Linked DNA regions of Homo sapiens: region 2 is linked to region 1. The links come from fine-mapping of genetic effects on gene expression. Tissue or cell type: whole blood. Region 1 holds a variant in brackets; the other region holds the start of a gene. All regions are shown on one strand. Distances are between the middles of the regions.

The links. PIP is the estimated chance that this variant, and not a neighbour inherited with it, causes the effect.
Region 2: OGFOD2 starts here. The variant in region 1 is fine-mapped to the expression of OGFOD2 in whole blood (TOPMed, PIP above 0.99).

What each region holds. Positions count from the first base shown.
Region 1 is chr12:122,851,067-122,859,165 of GRCh38, reverse strand. It overlaps HIP1R (huntingtin interacting protein 1 related), which reads right to left. Exons shown (of 32, transcript NM_003959.3): 7 at 7,869-7,930; 8 at 4,983-5,123; 9 at 4,204-4,261; 10 at 4,038-4,113; 11 at 3,761-3,901; 12 at 3,554-3,615; 13 at 3,263-3,335; 14 at 3,003-3,186; 15 at 2,822-2,910; 16 at 2,618-2,734; 17 at 2,440-2,541; 18 at 1,951-2,145; 19 at 917-1,064; 20 at 731-817; 2 more. Among named protein-coding and RNA genes, the nearest start is that of HIP1R, 20 kb to the right of the region's middle. RefSeq lists an enhancer at 4,798-5,298. The variant G/C (reference allele first, on the strand shown) is at 4,355.
Region 2 is chr12:122,971,995-122,980,093 of GRCh38, reverse strand. It overlaps OGFOD2 (2-oxoglutarate and iron dependent oxygenase domain containing 2), which reads right to left and starts at 4,850. Exons shown (of 7, transcript NM_001304833.2): 1 at 4,711-4,850; 2 at 4,227-4,283; 3 at 3,327-3,440; 4 at 3,124-3,223; 5 at 1,525-1,652; 6 at 1,084-1,341; 7 at 52-1,011. The coding sequence starts at 4,842. The coding sequence ends at 748. It also overlaps a transcript of ABCB9 not described here. RefSeq lists enhancers at 1-216, 4,946-5,405.

The sequences.
Region 1 (8,099 bases):
TCCGCACCAGGCTGGCCTGCATGTGCCGCAGAGCCTGCTGGTCCTGCAGCTGCCCCATGAGCTCCAGAGCCCGGGCCCCGCACTCCCTGCAGGTGTCTATGAGGCCTGGGGTGAGAAAGGACCGTGAGTGGAGCCCCCCCCACCGACAGGCTCCATAAGGACCCCCAGGGGAGACAAGCCAGTGAGGTGGACAGAACCTGCCATCCCAGGACCCACTTACGGTCGGCAGGGTCGGTGGGAGCCAGGTGCGAGGTGGCACCGCCATTGATGATGGTATCCGCAGCCAGGTGGGAGAAGCGGGTCAGAGCTGCCACCAGGGCGGAGGCGTCTGTGCGGGTGGGTGGGGCCAAGGTTGGGGGAGGATGACACTGAGACACTAGCACTGGGACCACCGTCGGTGGCCAGCTATCCCAGGAGGAGGAGGAAGAGGAAAGGAGGGCTCGGCAAGACAACGTCCAGGAGGCAGTGGGAACCACACCACAGTGTGTGTGGCCCCGGGCCCTTCAGTGCTCTGCCACCTGCAGACATATGGTGGCCCAGGCCCCAGAGGCAAAAGCCTATTTGTCCACAGGGCAGGGGTGGGTTCCTGGGAAGGAGCAGGCAGGGGGCATCTGCTTGGCTTCCCAGAGAGGTCCCTGCTGTCTGTAAACCTCCCAAAAGGCAAGAGGTGGCCATGGGCGCTGGAACTGGGACACAGCCCCCGCCTCCGCCCTGCCCTGGCTACACTCACCTGCCAAGGAGGTCAGGTACTGGGCGTGGCCCTCCTCCAGGGTGCTCACGGCATCCAAGGCCTCCTGGGCCCTGCTCACCAGGTAGTCTGCAAGCACGAGGAGAACTGAGGCCCCTGCCACCCGCTGCTCAGGGCTGGGGATGGGAAGGAGGCAGGGGAGCGGCTGAGTGTGGCCCCACTGTCTACCTGGGGAGCTGGTACAGCGCAGGTGCAGGGGGTCGTCCAGCTTGCTCACGGCATCCTGCAGGATGCCCGCGGCCTCGGCAGCAGCGCCCCGCAACACTGCGAACTGCTCGTCCAGCAGCCTCTGCCGCAGCCCCTGCTCCTGAGACTCCTGGCAATGGGGGTGAAGAGGACAGGTTAGAGATCCTCCCCAAGGCCAAGGATGTGCCCCAGCCCTGGAATGACCCATGGGCCACCAGTTGGAGCCCAGCTGAGACCCTCACTGGTCAGGGGGGTGGAGATTTCTAGAAAGAGGCTTCCCACACAGTGCACAGCTCAAGAATAAAAAGATAACCCAATTAAAACGTGAGCTCAAGGTCCTAAAAGACATTTCTCCAAAGATACACAAATGGCCAGGTAGCTCATGAAAAGATATGTAGCACCCTTTGCTATCAGGGAAACACAAATCAAGACCGTGAGAAACCACTCCACACCCACTAGGATGGCTAAAATAAAAAGAAGACAATAATAAGCATTGGCAAGGATGTGGAGAAACTGGAACATTCATGCGTTGCTGGTGGGAGTGTAAAATGGTGCAGCCACTTTGGAAAACAGTCTGGTAGTTTCTCAACAGGGTAACAGAGGTGAGACCCAGCAGTTCTACTGTGTTCCACACACATCAGCTATCTATCCAAGATAAGTGATGGCAGATGTTTACACAGAAACTTGTGCTCAAAGGCCCACAGCAGCACTATTTACAACAGCCAGAAAGTTGCAACAAACCCAATGTCCACCAAGTGATGAACAGATAAACACAATGTGGTCTGTCCACACGGCAGAGTACGACTCAGCCATAAAAGGAATGAGGTAATGACACAGGCTATGATGTGGTGACCCTTGACAACGTGATGCTGAGTGAAGAAGCCGGACACAAAAGGATGCATCGTGTATGATCCCCTTTACATGAAATCTCTAGAACAGGCAGATCACGGAGACAGATCGATGGTTGCCAGACGGCAGTGAACTCAGTGGTGCTGCTGCATCTGGGGAGGCCATACCCTCTCTGCCAGCCGGCCCTGCAACTCGCCCTGCTCCTGGGAGCTGCGCTGCTGCTCCCGGCTCAGCGCCGCCTCTGTCTCGCGCACCAGGCTCTGCGCCGCCAGCAGGTCTGCCTCCCGCTGCCGCACAGCTCCACTCAGAGCATCCTTCTCCGCACTCAGCGTGTCCAGCCGTGAGCTCAGCTCCGACTTGCTCTGTGGACAGACATGGACACCAGGCATGTGAACAGAGCTCCCAGGCCCCACCCACCCTGCCCCCACGCTTATAAACTGGGCCCTGGGGGTTAGTGATCACTTCCATTAGACTCAGGGCTCCCTGAGGACCAGCGGTAGGTCCTGTCTCCCATGTAGCCCCTGGGTCTGGGTCAGGGCTGCATCCCAGGATCACCGAGTGGCACCCAGGTGGGGCCTGTTCACGGGAAAGAGGACCTGACTTCCACCCAGGACTGGCCCCAGAACCCCACCTCCAGTCATCAAAGCCAGATGCACCTGCTCTGTGTGGCTCAGGGCCTCCTGCGCGCGGGCCAGCTCTCCGGCCTTGGCCTCCAGCTCCCTCTTGAGCTTCTCCAGCTGGTCGCTCTTCTCCTCTAGCTGGGACAGGACAGCGTGTCACTGGGGCAGTGGGCTGGGGATGCCGGGGCAGGGCCCTGTGCCACAAGGGACATACCTTCAACTCCGACTCCCGCTTCACCTGCTCCACCTGGAAGGCCAGCTGCTCCTTCACCCGCGCCACCTCCTCCTGGCTTTGCTGCGTCACCGTCAGCTGCTTGGCTGTGTCCGCGTTCTGCATGGGCAGGGGAAGGGCTCATGCTCTGCTGCCATCCCCGAGAGGCCCTGCCACCGGCTGGGATGGAGGATGGGCTGCACCTACCTTTCTGAGCAGCTCCGCGTGCACATGGACGAGCTCACTGTGCTTTTCCTTCAGCTTGTTGTAGCGCGCCTCCGTGGCACTGGCCTTCCCTGGGGGCGAGAGGAGGGGCAGTGATGCCCCGTGTGGGGTGGCAGGGGCTGGGGACACACCCTTGGACCCCTGTGGCCAAGGCCCCACGTACTCTCAGCCTCCTCACGCAGGCCCTGGCTCCGCTCGCCCTCCAGCTGGGCAGCCCTCAGCTGGGCCAGCTCGTGGCGGAGCTGCTCATTATCCACCAGGGCCTTCTGCTTCTGCTTCCGCTGCTCCTCCAGCTCACCCTCCAGTGCATTCACCTGGCTCTTCAGCTGCGCGATGTACCGCTGGGCCTGCGGGAGGAGGTGTGACGTGGGGCCCTGCCTGGGCCGTGAGGGGCCCTGGCCCCCACCCATCCCCACCCCGCACCTCCAGCTTGATCTTCTCCAGTTCAGAGCGGAGCATTTCCACCTCTCTCTTCAAGCTCTCAATCTGGAGGTCCCTGGGGACAGAGGTCCTGGGGTTCAAGTTAAGTCAACCAGAACAGTCAACAGACCCAGCACAGGAACCTGTCTCCTCCTCAGTGGCCACTCAGGATTTGGGCACCTCACGGGTTCATGTTCCCCACCTATGGCCTTTCCAGACAGAACTGTCCAGAGCACAGCTCAGCTGAGCCCGTTTCCAACCACCCCCAGCCCAGTCGGCTCCTCCAGCCCTCACCTGTCGTCCTTCACAGACCCATTGGGGGGTCCAAACGTCTGATCGAAGAGGTCAGCCACCACCTGCCACAGCAAAGCATGGTGACCCCACTCACCTGTGCCCTCCAGGCCGGGCAGTGGGCAAAGGGAGGGCTGGCCACCCGACACTCCCGTTGGCCTCATGCTGCAGCTGGAGGACTGGGGGACACGGGCTGGGCAGGGGGCTCACCACTGGCTCCCCCGCGGGGGGCCCTGTGCTGATCTCAATGAGATTCTCCGGCTCCTCATCTTCCGGGGCCTCCTCGGGGATCACCACCACCGGCTTGATGTGCTCAGCCAGGGCTGAGGCCCGCAGGAAGTTAGGGGGTCCCTGCAGGGGCGGCAGGTGGGACCTGCTCAGCTGTCCCCTAAGCAAGCCCTCCTTCCGCCATCTCCATAGCCTGTGTGGGGCCCAGCCAGGTGCCTGGGGTCCTCAAAGGGCCTCGGGGCCCTCTTGGGGGTGGTACCTCGGGCAGCCGGGGGATCTGGATGAGCCGCTTGAAGTACAGCATGTCGGAGGCTCTGCGGAAGAAGTTCCTGAGGCTGCAGAGATGGTGGGAAGTTCGGGTTCAGGAAGGGGCCACGGAGCCTCTCCCCCACCGGCCTCAATCCTGTCCCTGTCCCAGGCAGTACCTGTGAAACTGCTCGTGGAACCGGTCCCTGTGGCCTTGCAGGGTGTCCGCAGGGAGACCTGGAGGGTGGCACAAGTGTAACAGGACTTCTCTGCACACTGCTCAGGGGCTCACCTGCCCTGCCTTGTTCCTCCGTATGCTACAAACTCACA[G/C]ATCAGAGATCACCTGAGACCGGGCCAGGCCCGCTCTCCCATCGGGATGGGGAGACCTGTGGGAGACGCTGTGGGAGGGCTCAGTTCAGACTGAGCTAGAGAAGGAAACAGCGAATGGAAAGGAAGGCGCTGCGGCCACATCTCACCTAACCCACACCTGGCTTCGGGAGGCACTAGCAAGCCGCTTTCACCAAACACGTTGGTCCCAGGCTGACACTAACACAGTGGTTCTCAAAGTGCGGTCGAGGGACGAGACCCTTTCAAGGGGTTGGTTAGATCAAAACTCTCCTAACACCCCAGACACCTTTTGCCTTTTTGCGCTTGCACCCCCAGGGTGCCTGGCGGGAGATTCCTGGGAGCAGCTGGGGCCTCCGTCTTGGCCGAGCCAGGCATTTAGTCGTAAAAATGAAAACCAAGCCACTCACTAAGTTTTTTGCTTGGTAAAGTAGTGGGTTTTTTTTTTTTTTTTTTCATAAAATATATGTTATTTCTATTAATGGGCAGTGGGTTTATTACTGCCATTTTTAAATGAATAAACCTCTAATTTTTCGATTTTCCTTTTTGACAGTGAATGTCTAAGCCATATAAACACAGCCTTCCGGGCCAGGGGTTGCCCTGGGCCACTCACAAGAGTGTAGCTTGAACAGGAGCTTGACCGTGTAGTGGTAGAGGTGGCTGCAGTCCTGGATGACCTGGATGAGGGGGGCCAGGCGGCACTGGCCTGAGGACATCTGGGATACGGCGATGGCCGTGTTGAGCTGTCGGAAAACTGTGCAAAAGGGGCAGGAGGAAGAACGTGAGCCCTTGGGAGCTGGGCAACCTGTCCAAGGTGGTCCAACTGTGAAGCAGGGCCCTAAGCCAGCTCCCACACACCAGTGTGCCCCCTGCCTCCAAGACGGGAGCCTCATGTGCTGGTGGCTGCCCCAGGTCAAGACCAGATGCTCCCATGAAGGAGGTCAACGGCAACAACAAGGTCAGGGCAAAGGAGCTCCCAGCCCAGCTCAGCAAGGGCTTCCAGAGACCTCCACCTGGGAGCCCAGGACGAGGTGCCCGACTGACAAGGGTGACGGATAGCTCCATGCCCACGGGCCTCAAACCCACGCTGAATGTTAGAGCAGGAAGGAGGCTCACGATGGAGCACCCCAAATGCCTAACTTTACAGATGTGGGAACAGGCAGGGCTTCTGCCAAGTAACACGGCACTAGGGTCACAGCTTGGCTCTGCACACCCCAAGTGACCCTGAAACCTCGCTTGCCCCCAGGGCCCATCTCCCCTGCCCCTGACACCCCCAGGGCCCGTCTCCCCTGCCCCTGACACCCCCAGGGCCCGTCTCCCCTGCCCCTGACACCCCCAGGGCCCGTCTCCCCTGCCCCTGACACCCCCAGGGCCCGTCTCCCCTGCCCCTGACACCCCCAGGGCCCGTCTCCCCTGCCCCTGACACCCCCAGGGCCCGTCTCCCCTGCCCCTGACACCCCCAGGGCCCGTCTCCCCTGCCCCTGACACCCCCAGGGCCCGTCTCCCCTGCCCCTGACACCCCCAGGGCCCGTCTCCCCTGCCCCTGACACCCCCAGGGCCCGTCTCCCCTGCCCCTGACAATCGGGCCTTGTATCAGAACTACCAAGTGGGAGGGACAAAGGACAAACATGAGGCTGCCTCCTCCTTGGCTGGCAGCTTCTCTGGGGCAGAGAGAATGACAAAGAGCAGGCAGCTGGCCAGCACGGGAGAGCGGCCAGACAGCCCCCGCTGCACAGACCTGTGCCCTGGCCCCTCAGGTCCTGCTCCTGCCTTGCCTGTGATGGGACCACTTGCAAATCTCTGCAGTGACAGGAGAGAGCCTGGGGGGGAGGGGCAAGAAGGAAGACACAAAGTGCCGCCCCTTGCCTTTTTAAAAAAGTAATCTCTAATTACATGTCATGCTAAGTATGTTTTCCTTGCAAAAAATTACAGCACACATAAAGTACTGCTTGGATCTTCAACACGTATGTCCATGCTGTTCGGCAATCTGCTTGATTTCACACAGTAGAATGTTTTCTAGATCTTCCCGGCCATCCCAGATTCGACACATCTCTCTTCCCACCACCCTCCGTTCTCTGCTCTGCACAGACAGCGAGACGCAGCCTCTGCTGAGGCATGTTTAGGACGTTTGTGTTTCTTTGCTGTTACAGGTCCTGAGGCAGGGAAGCCCCTGTACCTGTCACCTCTGCAGATCTGGGAATTTCTCCAGCAGATGCTGGTACACCCCATTTGTGCTTCATCAACACACCAGCGTCACCAGGTGGGAAGCGTGCCTGTGAGTGTTCTCCACTTCCCTCGTGGGGCCACTGCCTGCCCACACTGGCCTTCTCCCATGCCAGGGGTAACTGGCTCCTACCTGGTGGGCTCTGTGCTGAGAGGCTCAGGCTCAGCACATCTCTGCCAGGACACAGAGCCTGGTAGCCCTGTCCTGCTGCACAGTTGGGGCCACACCTTTGGACACCTGCCCTCTGCTCTCCATGTCAGATCCTGAGCAGGCTCTTCCCAGGCACAAGGGTCCAACTCTGAGCCCACCTCCCACCCACTGGAACTGAATACCCATCAGGCTCGCCCAGCTGCACTGGCCAGACCTGGGGACTCAGGGAGGCTGCCCAAACTGCCTCTAACTCCCAATTTTCCCTTAAGGAGGCATTTGCTTCTTGCCCTCTTATGGAGAGCACTGAGTCACCCATGAGTTGTTTTGAAGCTGCCACCCAGAACAATCAGTTCTCCAGCCTGGAAGCTGAGCCCTCTGAGATTTCCTGTCCAACAGCGGCCGGGTTCCCTCGCTAGGAAGTCTGACGTGACTCAGAGGCTTTCTAGAGCAGAAAATGGCAGGACGACCCAAACCTTTCTTCCAGCTGGGCTCTGCAGATGGCCCAAGGCTGGGGCAGGAACCTGGCAAGGTGGCTCCTGTGCACACCTCCTCACCCTCCCTGTCTTGGGGCTGATGGAGTGACACTCACTGGATGGAAGAGATGGCTGAACCTGTATCCTGGATGTACCCGCTGGGGCCTGCCATGCTTTGGAGGGGCCAGGAGGCCCCATTACCTATCCCTGGAGGTGCAGGGACCCCAGGAGGGGCAGGGGCATTTCTTTTTCTTTTTTTTTTTTTTAAGACGGAGACTCACTCTGTTGCCCAGGCTGGAGTGTAGCGGCATGATCTCCGCCGCCCAGGTTCAAGTGATTCTCCTGCCTCAGCCTCCCAAGTAGCTGGGAATACAGGCGTGCGCCACCACGCCTGGCTAATTTTTATATTTTTTTAGTAGAGACAGGGTTTCACCATGTTGGCCAGGCTGGTCTTGAACCCCTGACCTCAAGCAATCTGCCTGCCTCGGCCTCCCAAAATGCTGGGATTACAGATGTGAGCCACTGCGGCTGGCCAGGGTCATTTCATAGTGATCAGTTGGTCTGATCACTCATGTCTTCTTTTTTCTTCTCGTCCCATCTCTGGGGACTTAGCAATACACTCAGACCCCCGCATCCCCTCTTTACGGCTCACCTGATTCAGAAAGCTTCAGCTCACAATCCATGTAATCAAACATCTCCACAGTGAGCTGGAAGCTACGCAAGAGAAGTGGGGGAAGAAATGAAAAAGGGTGGGTGGACCCACCCACTCGTCCTGAGACGCCCCCTCCAGTGGGGACGGGGGCACCGCCGACACCATGGCTCTGGTGAGACAGCGTGCCTCTGCCAGGACGACAGTCCTTCAAGTACACCCCACCCTTTTAAC
Region 2 (8,099 bases), 120 kb before region 1:
GGGCCCCCAAGTTGCAACTCTTCCACAATGACAGCCGCAAACACAAAGGGATCTTGCAAAGCACTTTATATACGTCAGCGCATTTGACTCCCAAAACAGCTCTAGGAGGTAGGTGCTAAATGAGGAAACGAAGGCACCAAAAGGTGAAGGCTCACCTAAAGCCACACAGCTGGAAGTGGCAGAAGCAGAATGGGAACCCGGGCAGCCTGGTTCCTGGCCCTGCCATTCACCCCTCTGCCATCTAGAAGATGCTACTGGTGGCCCACCCGAGTCCACTGGGGGGTGATGCCTGCTGCTGAGGGTTCACATCTGTGCTCTCTGGAGGCTTCCCTTGGCTACTGGAAGGCACCCTGCCCTGGAGATAAGTGTCTGGGAAGTTATTCACTCCTCTCTGGCCCCCTCATCCAGGAGCCAGTAACCGGTGGTGTGGGCACACTGTGGTACTGTGGGCTCTGCCTGGAGCTCTCCGTGGGGCCAGCTGAGGCTGGACGTCCTCTGAAGCCACTTCCTTGCCCAGCTGCTCCCTCCCCTCCCCTGCTTCCCTGACTCCCTCGCTGAAGCCCCATTCCAGACCCTGCTTCTGACAAACCTGAACTAAGGCAGCATCTTTGCCCATAGAATGACCCAGAAGCTGGCACACCGTTGAGCCAAGAAGTGCAGTAGGCTGCGGGGATTTTATTTCTGCCCCCAGACCAAGGCAACGGAGCCCTCACCTGCCTGCCACCCCCACACTGGGCCCAAGCAAGCTCAGGTGAGCGCACATACATCCACCGTGGCGGGCTCCTCTCGGGTGAAGCCATCACCGAAGCCCTCATCGTCCACCAGGTCGGGCTCACGGCAGCACATGGGACAGAGGCTGTTGCGCACAGCAGAGGCTCGGAGCCAGACGACAAGGTTCCAACGCTCACCAGTGCCCAAGGGCCGGGCTCCATGCAGCTGGCCGCCACGGTGGAGGACACCCTGGCCCACCACGTGCTCCACCTCCAGGGGCTCCGTCAGGGCTGTGGGTGCCTGCAGATGGCACGACTCAGGCCTGGGCACTCACAGCTGCCCCAGGCCCTGCCGCATGGGTCACACACTCACCTGGAAGAGGCCCCCAAAATACAGGGCGCCCCCTGTGAAGACCTTGCCCAAGGCCACATTGAGGGTGAGCTCGGCATTATCATAGTGGCAGCCCAGCTCCAGGTCCTGGCCCGGTGCGTATTTGACCACAAAGGCCCGGTGGCTGTCGAGCCGGCCCCCGCCACAGTCAGGGTACAGCAGGGCCATCAGCGGCTGCAGGAAGCGCTCCCGCAGTGGTGTCATCAGCGGCTCGTCCAGCCCGAGCTCGTGCAGCAGCACCTGGGAGGGGATTCCTGGGGTCAGCAAGGAAACTAGAGGGCTGCAACCCTGGGCTTCCACTCCACGGTGATCCCACTGTGACCTTCTTTCGCAGCCCGGGCAGGCAGCCCATCTGCAGAACCTCTGACACTGCCTCCTGACCCCAGCCACCCCCTCCTCTGCCACCGGCCAGGCCTCACCCACCCCGTAGTTGTTCATGGTGTTGGGCCTCCCCTTAGGCATGTCCGATTGCTCGAAGTGCTCCAGCTCTTCCAGCAGGGCCTGGCAGAAGGGCGCTGTGAAAACAGGCACCCGGTAGATGCGCTTCTCCTCTGTGGAAGGAGGGATGGTCTGTTGGCCTGAATGTGGCCGTGGGCCGGCCAGGCCTGGGCTTCAGTCTTCCTGTTTCATCACCTGTGCCATGGAGATGAGGCCTTTGCTTTTCAGGGCTATTGTGATGACTTAAGGAAGTAACATGAGGAGCAGGGGAGGCCGATTCCCATGCCCCCCACTTATGCCCGGAACCTTTCCCCAGACTCTACAAGTGTCCACAGGGCTGGCCCTGGGAGCTCACATATGGGTCCTGAGGCCCAGAGAGGGGAAGGAAGTAGCCCAGGGACACCCAGCAGGCCAGTGACAGCCAAGTCGGGATCACAGAGCCAACTTCAGGCTCTCTCTGCACCTCCTTTCATCTGATGAGCCACCGAAGTCTGTACCCCAACTCAGAAGTGGCTCTGGGAGCCTCTGTCCCCCAGCAGGAAGGCCAGAAGGGGCTGTTCTTTCTTGCTGGGCCCTGAGGGGGAAGAAACCAGGCTGAGAATGGAAACCTAAACATTTCTTGGCGGACGCACCAATGCCCAGGGGTGCAGGGCTAGTGTGCCCACGATGGGGCCACCTCGCAGCCTAGGCCCTGCCCCAGCCAACAGCCTCAGCACTATCTCAGCTGCCGGGGAGTGGAAGGCAATGAGGAGAGCACCCCCAGGCTGGGAGGAGGGGGATTCATTCCACCCATGACTCCCAACAAAGCACAGGCTCCATGAGGGGAAACTTGTATCTGCCTCCCACAGGAGCCCCTAGCCCAGGCTATCAGTGCCAATAAGAATAGGAAACACTTTCCAAACACTACGTGCGGGCCCTGTGACAGGCACTCTATGCAGATTAACTCACTTGATCGTCGCAGTGCCTTAAGAGAGGGGGTTACTGTTGCTCCCATTTTACAGATGAGGAAACTGAATCAGAGGTTAAACAACACGCAAACCTCCCTTGCCCAGCATTTCCTGCTGGGTTTAGCCAATAAGTGAGCCCAGCAAGAAATCCGAAGAGAAGTGGGGCATTTTTTGCCCTACTTGGAGTTTGGCATGGCCGCAGGCCTCCGCCCAGAGCCACAACTCCAGGTGGTAACTGCTCCCTCCTGTTGCCAGCCCTGGGGGGCCGGGCTTTGCCATTCCTTACTGGTCCCTTTATCCTGCCCATACCTGTCTCAATGGTCCCTTTAAGATCTTGGATCAGCCCTGTTTGAGTGTGCCAGCTGTCCCACACATGACACAAATATCCACTATTTGCTGGATGAGGGCACGAAGGAAGGGTGAAGGAAAGAATGAAGATACCAGGCTCATGGCAGGTATTGAATGAATGAATGCGGATGTCCTGCTCCTGGCAGGTTGGTCCCACTGACCCTTCCAGCTCCTGCTGGTTTGGTTTTTGGAGGCAGAGATGGTGGCTGGAGGGACCCCAGCATCCCACACCCAGGTTTCCCAGGCTGCCATTCCCTGGTCCTGCCAGGTCTCAGGGCCAGGACCTCACCCGATACTGTCTCCAGCCGCTGGAGAAGGCCCTTGAGGTCTGCGTCTGGGGACACGCTGTACTCAGTCACGGCCAGGAACTCGGGGGCCAGAGCTGCATCCTGGGAGCAAAACACACCAGCTGTGGGGCAGGCAGCACCCCCAGCCCTGGATGCTACCTCCTCTTTCCAGTACCGGCCTTCAAGCACTCTGGCTGGCTGGTACCTGCAGTGAGTCGTAGACCTCAGGCCGTGCCGGGTGGTAGGAACTCGCGATGAGGGCTTTCCTAGCTGCTGACTCCTGCCCCAGCCGCTGCCGCCGCTCCACCTCCTGCTCAAGCTGGGGTGGCACAGGGTTGTTACCAGGTGGGGCCTCCCATCCTCCTGAGGCCACTGTACAGATGAAGAAACTGAAGCCCAGAACGCCAGACAGGGCCCAGGCTGGAAGCCAAGTCTAGCCTACACTCCTGAATCTATCTGGGTCAACTGCAAGTTCCAGACTGTTAGCTGAAAGGGACTTCTAGAAGGGGACCCATCCTGTTTCAGGCTGCCCCAACCTGAGCCTAGCTGGGATGAGAACCCCTAGATGTACCTCAACCATCTGGGCCCACACAGGGACAGGAGACAGTCATGGCCAAGTCCTGTGTTCCAGAGGTTGCTGAGGACTCTCCTGGGAAGCTTCCCACCACTGACTCCAGGGGAAGGAGGAGGAGGGAGTGGGGCAGCAGCCCTGGCAGCAGCCTGCGGGGTATATGGTAAGGTGTGAGGAGCCCAGGGGCCTGGAAGCTGTGGCTGGGATCACATCTGCTCCTGCTGTAAAAGCTTGGGCAAGGGATCCCTCTTTAAGCCTCAGCTTCTCAATCCAAAATGAGAGTGGTGCTTGTGCTTATCTCACAGAGCTGTTAAGAACGGCATGACTAGGCAACTTAGCAACTTAGCATTTCCCCTTCTCTCTCCTGGTGCCAAGACTCAGGTGTGGAGGGATGAGTGGGGGGCAGGAAGGAGGAAAGTGAGGGCCTAAGTGACCCTTCAGGGATCAGGGACTGAGGCTAGGCTCAAGCTGTGTCCTCAAGCTGCGGACACAAATCTAACGAGGAGGAGCTGTGCAGGGGCAGGGGACTGGTACCTCTGCTAACAGCTGCTGGAAGTCCTTGGCGCTAACACAGCCTCGGCTGCGCAGGATCTGGGAGCAGAAAGAACACTGAGCATGACTGTATGACCTGAGGAAATCCCTTCACTCTCTAAGCCTCAGTTTCCCCTGCTTAAAATGGGGAGAGGAGCCCCGACCTCAAAGGATCATGGAGAGAATGAACTGCGGAACCCTGTCAAGCTCAGGACAGGGCTCCGGGCTGGTGTTGCTGTGAGGCGGCAAGCTGAGCCCGGCCCTGTCCTAAGCACCCTACATGCTTGTTCATTCCTTCCTCACAATCTCACAGGGAGATACTATTACCCCTTTACGGTGAGAAAACCGAGGCAGAGAGAGGCCGTCATTCTTGTATTTGAAGATACGGTGCGCGGCGTGCGCAAAGCAAACGACCCTGGGGACGAACTTCCCTCCTCCACTACCCCTCTCTGCCCACTGCTCCGTAGGGACGACAGCGGCCACTCACCGGGCCGTAGTCCCGGCGCAGCTGCTGCTCGCCTCGGAAGCGCACGTGCAGCCCATAGCGCGCCACGTACAAGTTATCGGTGCAGAAGCAGGCGCAGCGGCAGAAGTGCCGCGGAGCCCCCACCGTCGCCATAGTGAAGCACCCACAGCCCTACCAGCTTCCGTAGAGAGACTTCGGGCACGCCCCCAACCGCGGGAGGCGCGGAACCAGCGGCCAAGGGGCCGCTCTAAGTTCCCAAGGGCGGAAAAGGACGAAGACGCACCTCGCCAGGAAACGGTCTGCGGAGAAAGATGCTCCTGGGCCGGGTTGGGACCGGCGGCCTCCTCGTTCCGCCTCCCAGTTTTCCCACTACGAGGCAGGGACTAATGGCTCCACTTTACAGACAGCTGAACTGGGTCGTGCCTTCACAGGACGGGGAGAGGAAGGGACTCGGAGCCCCAAGGCCTTTGACTTAAACGCCGACCCACCCCCCGCCGTCTGCCCGGAGCTCGTGGAGAACCAGCCGAGCTGAGGACAGTTTAAAGAGCTCGGAGGTCCGACTAGTTCCCGCTGGTGCTTCAATCATCCAGCCCTGTACGTTTCAGTTTGGATTTAGCATCTACCCCGGGTCCCTGCCTGGCGCTTCCGGTCCCTCCGCCACAGTCTGTTGGATTACCTCAGATTGCCCCAGTGAGTGTCTCCACCAAAACGCTCCGTCTCGCATTACTTCCGGTGGCGTTCCCAATGGACGCGGGAGGGCGGGGTCAGGTGTGGGAGGGCGACGGGGCGTGGTCTCACCGCAGCCAACAAATGACAACTCTTGCAGACCGAGCCTCTTCTCTCCCCGGACCTTTGCTCAGGAATCTACCAGCATTAAACCTTTGAGCTAGGTACTATTATATCACCGTCTTACAGATGAGGAAACTGAGACCCAGAGAGGCACAGGGACCCGCCGCAGGTCACACATCCAGTAAGGGGCAAATATGGCGTTTGAACCCTACAGAGTTCCCCAGTTAACCACCACAGGGCTTCTGGGAGTGGTGGAAGTATGTGGGATTTGGGGTTTTCTCGTGCAGAGCTGCCCGGCCCGAGAAGGTGTTTAACGTTTTACAGTCGTCTTGATTGCCCAGTGATAGTGAGAGGCCCTGCTATCTAGGAAAGGATCCATTTCCCCAGATCAATGTTCATTACCCGCCTAACTGCCCTTTTTCCCCAGGAGGCCCAGGGCAGGTCGGCTCCCCAGCCACCCACCAGGCAGGCCTGGCACATGCAGCACCCCACCCCACCCTCACCCCCTCTCCGTTTGCAGCAGTTTGCAAGATGAGTGTGTTGTACCTATCAGTTTATTTATTTGTTTATTTACTTTTTGAGATAGAGTTTCACCCAGGCTGGAGTGCAGTGGCGCGATCTCCGCTCACTGCAACCTCTGCCTCCCGGATTCAAGCAGTTTTCCTGCCTCAGCCTCCCGAATAGCTGGGATTATCGGCAGGCGCCACCACGCCCAGCTAATTTTTTTGTTTTTTGTTTGTTTGTTTGTTTGTTTTGAGACGGAGTCTTGCTCTGTCGCCCAGGCTGGAGTGCAGTGGCACGATCTCGGCTCACTGTAAGCTCTGCCTCCCGGGTTCACGCCATTCTCCTGGCTCAGCCTCCCGAGTAGCTGGGACTACAGGCGCCCGCCACCACACCCGGCTAATTTTTTATGTTTTTAGTAGAGACGGGGTTTCACCGTGTTAGCCAGGATGGTCTTGATCTCCTGACCTCGTGGTCCCCCTGCCTCGGCCTCCCAAAGTTTTTGTTTTTTTTTTTTTTTTTTTTTTTTTTTTTTTCTTTTTTTGAGACGGAGTCTCGCTCTGTCGCCCAGGCCGGACTGCGGACTGCAGTGGCGCAATCTCGGCTCACTGCAAGCTCCGCTTCCCGGGTTCACGCCATTCTCCTGCCTCAGCCTCCCGAGTAGCTGGGACTACAGGCGCCCGCCACCGCGCCCGGCTAATTTTTTGTATTTTTAGTAGAGACGGGGTTTCACCTTGTTAGCCAGGATGGTCTCGATCTCCTGACCTCATGATCCACCCGCCTCGGCCTCCCAAAGTGCTGGGATTACAGGCGTGAGCCACCGCGCCCGGCCTTGTATTTTTAGTAGAAACGGGATTTCGCCATGTTGGCCAGGCTGGTCTAGAACTGAGACCACTGCGCCTGGCCTGCTTATCAGTTTAGATTGGCCCTCTCCATGGACCCTCTCCTCCTTCCAGACACTCTGGGCTCAGTCACCGAAGGGAGCAGCAGCAAGAAGAATATTTACCAGCAAGTACTGAATCAACATGTGCTGCCAGCCAGCGCTGACATGTATCTTTGTTGACTGCTTAAGGTATTATTACCCCCATTTTACAGATAAGGAAAGTGAGGTGGGTACAGGAATCTGTCTAGAGTCATAAACCTAGTGAGTAGCAGACCAGAATTAGAACGCTCCAGAATTAGAGTATCTTGATTCCAGAGTCGTATGTATATGTGTATGTGAATATATGTATATGAATGTGCAATCATATGTATATGTCTGTATATGTGTATATTTACACATACTTTAAAAATTGACATAGAGGCCAGGTGTGGTGGCTCACGCCTGTAATCCTAGCACTTTGGGAGGCTGAGGCCAGCGGATTACCTGAGGTCAGGAGTTCGAGACCAGCCTGGGCAACATGGTGAAACCCCGTCTCTACTAAAAATATAACAAAATTATCCAGGCGTGGTAGCACACGCCTGTAATCCCAGCTACTCGGGAGGCTGAGGCATGAGAATCACTTGAACCCAGGAGGCGGAGGCTGCAGTGAGCCGAGATTGCGCCACTGCACTCCAGCCTGGGCGACAGAGTGAGACTCTGTCTCAGAAAACAAAAACAAAAAAGTCAACATAGAGCACTGGACAAACCCATGTAACCAGCACCCAGATCCCAATCAGAACATTCCAGCCCCCGTAGAAGCGCCCCTGTTATTTTTCTCGACTGCTTTCTATTCCCTTGAGTGAACATTCCACAAGTCATTGACCCATTCTACAGCTGACAGACATTTACGCTGTTTCCAGTTTAAAGACATTACGAATGAGGCCAGGCGCCATGGCTTACGCCTGTAATCCTAGCACTTTGGGAGGCCAAGGCGGGTGGATCACGAGGTCAAGAGATCCAGACCATCCTGGCTACAAAAAATTAGCCGGGCGCGGTGGCTGGCGTCTGTAGTCCCAGCTGCTCGGGAGGCTGAGGCAGGAGAATGGCGTAAACCTGGGAAGCGGAGCTTGCAGTGAGCCAAGATTGCACCACTGCACTCCAGCCTGCGTGACAGAGTGAGACTCTGTCTCAACAAAAAAAAAAAAAAAAAAAAAAGACATTATGAATGAAGCTGCTATGAACATTCTTTTTATTATGA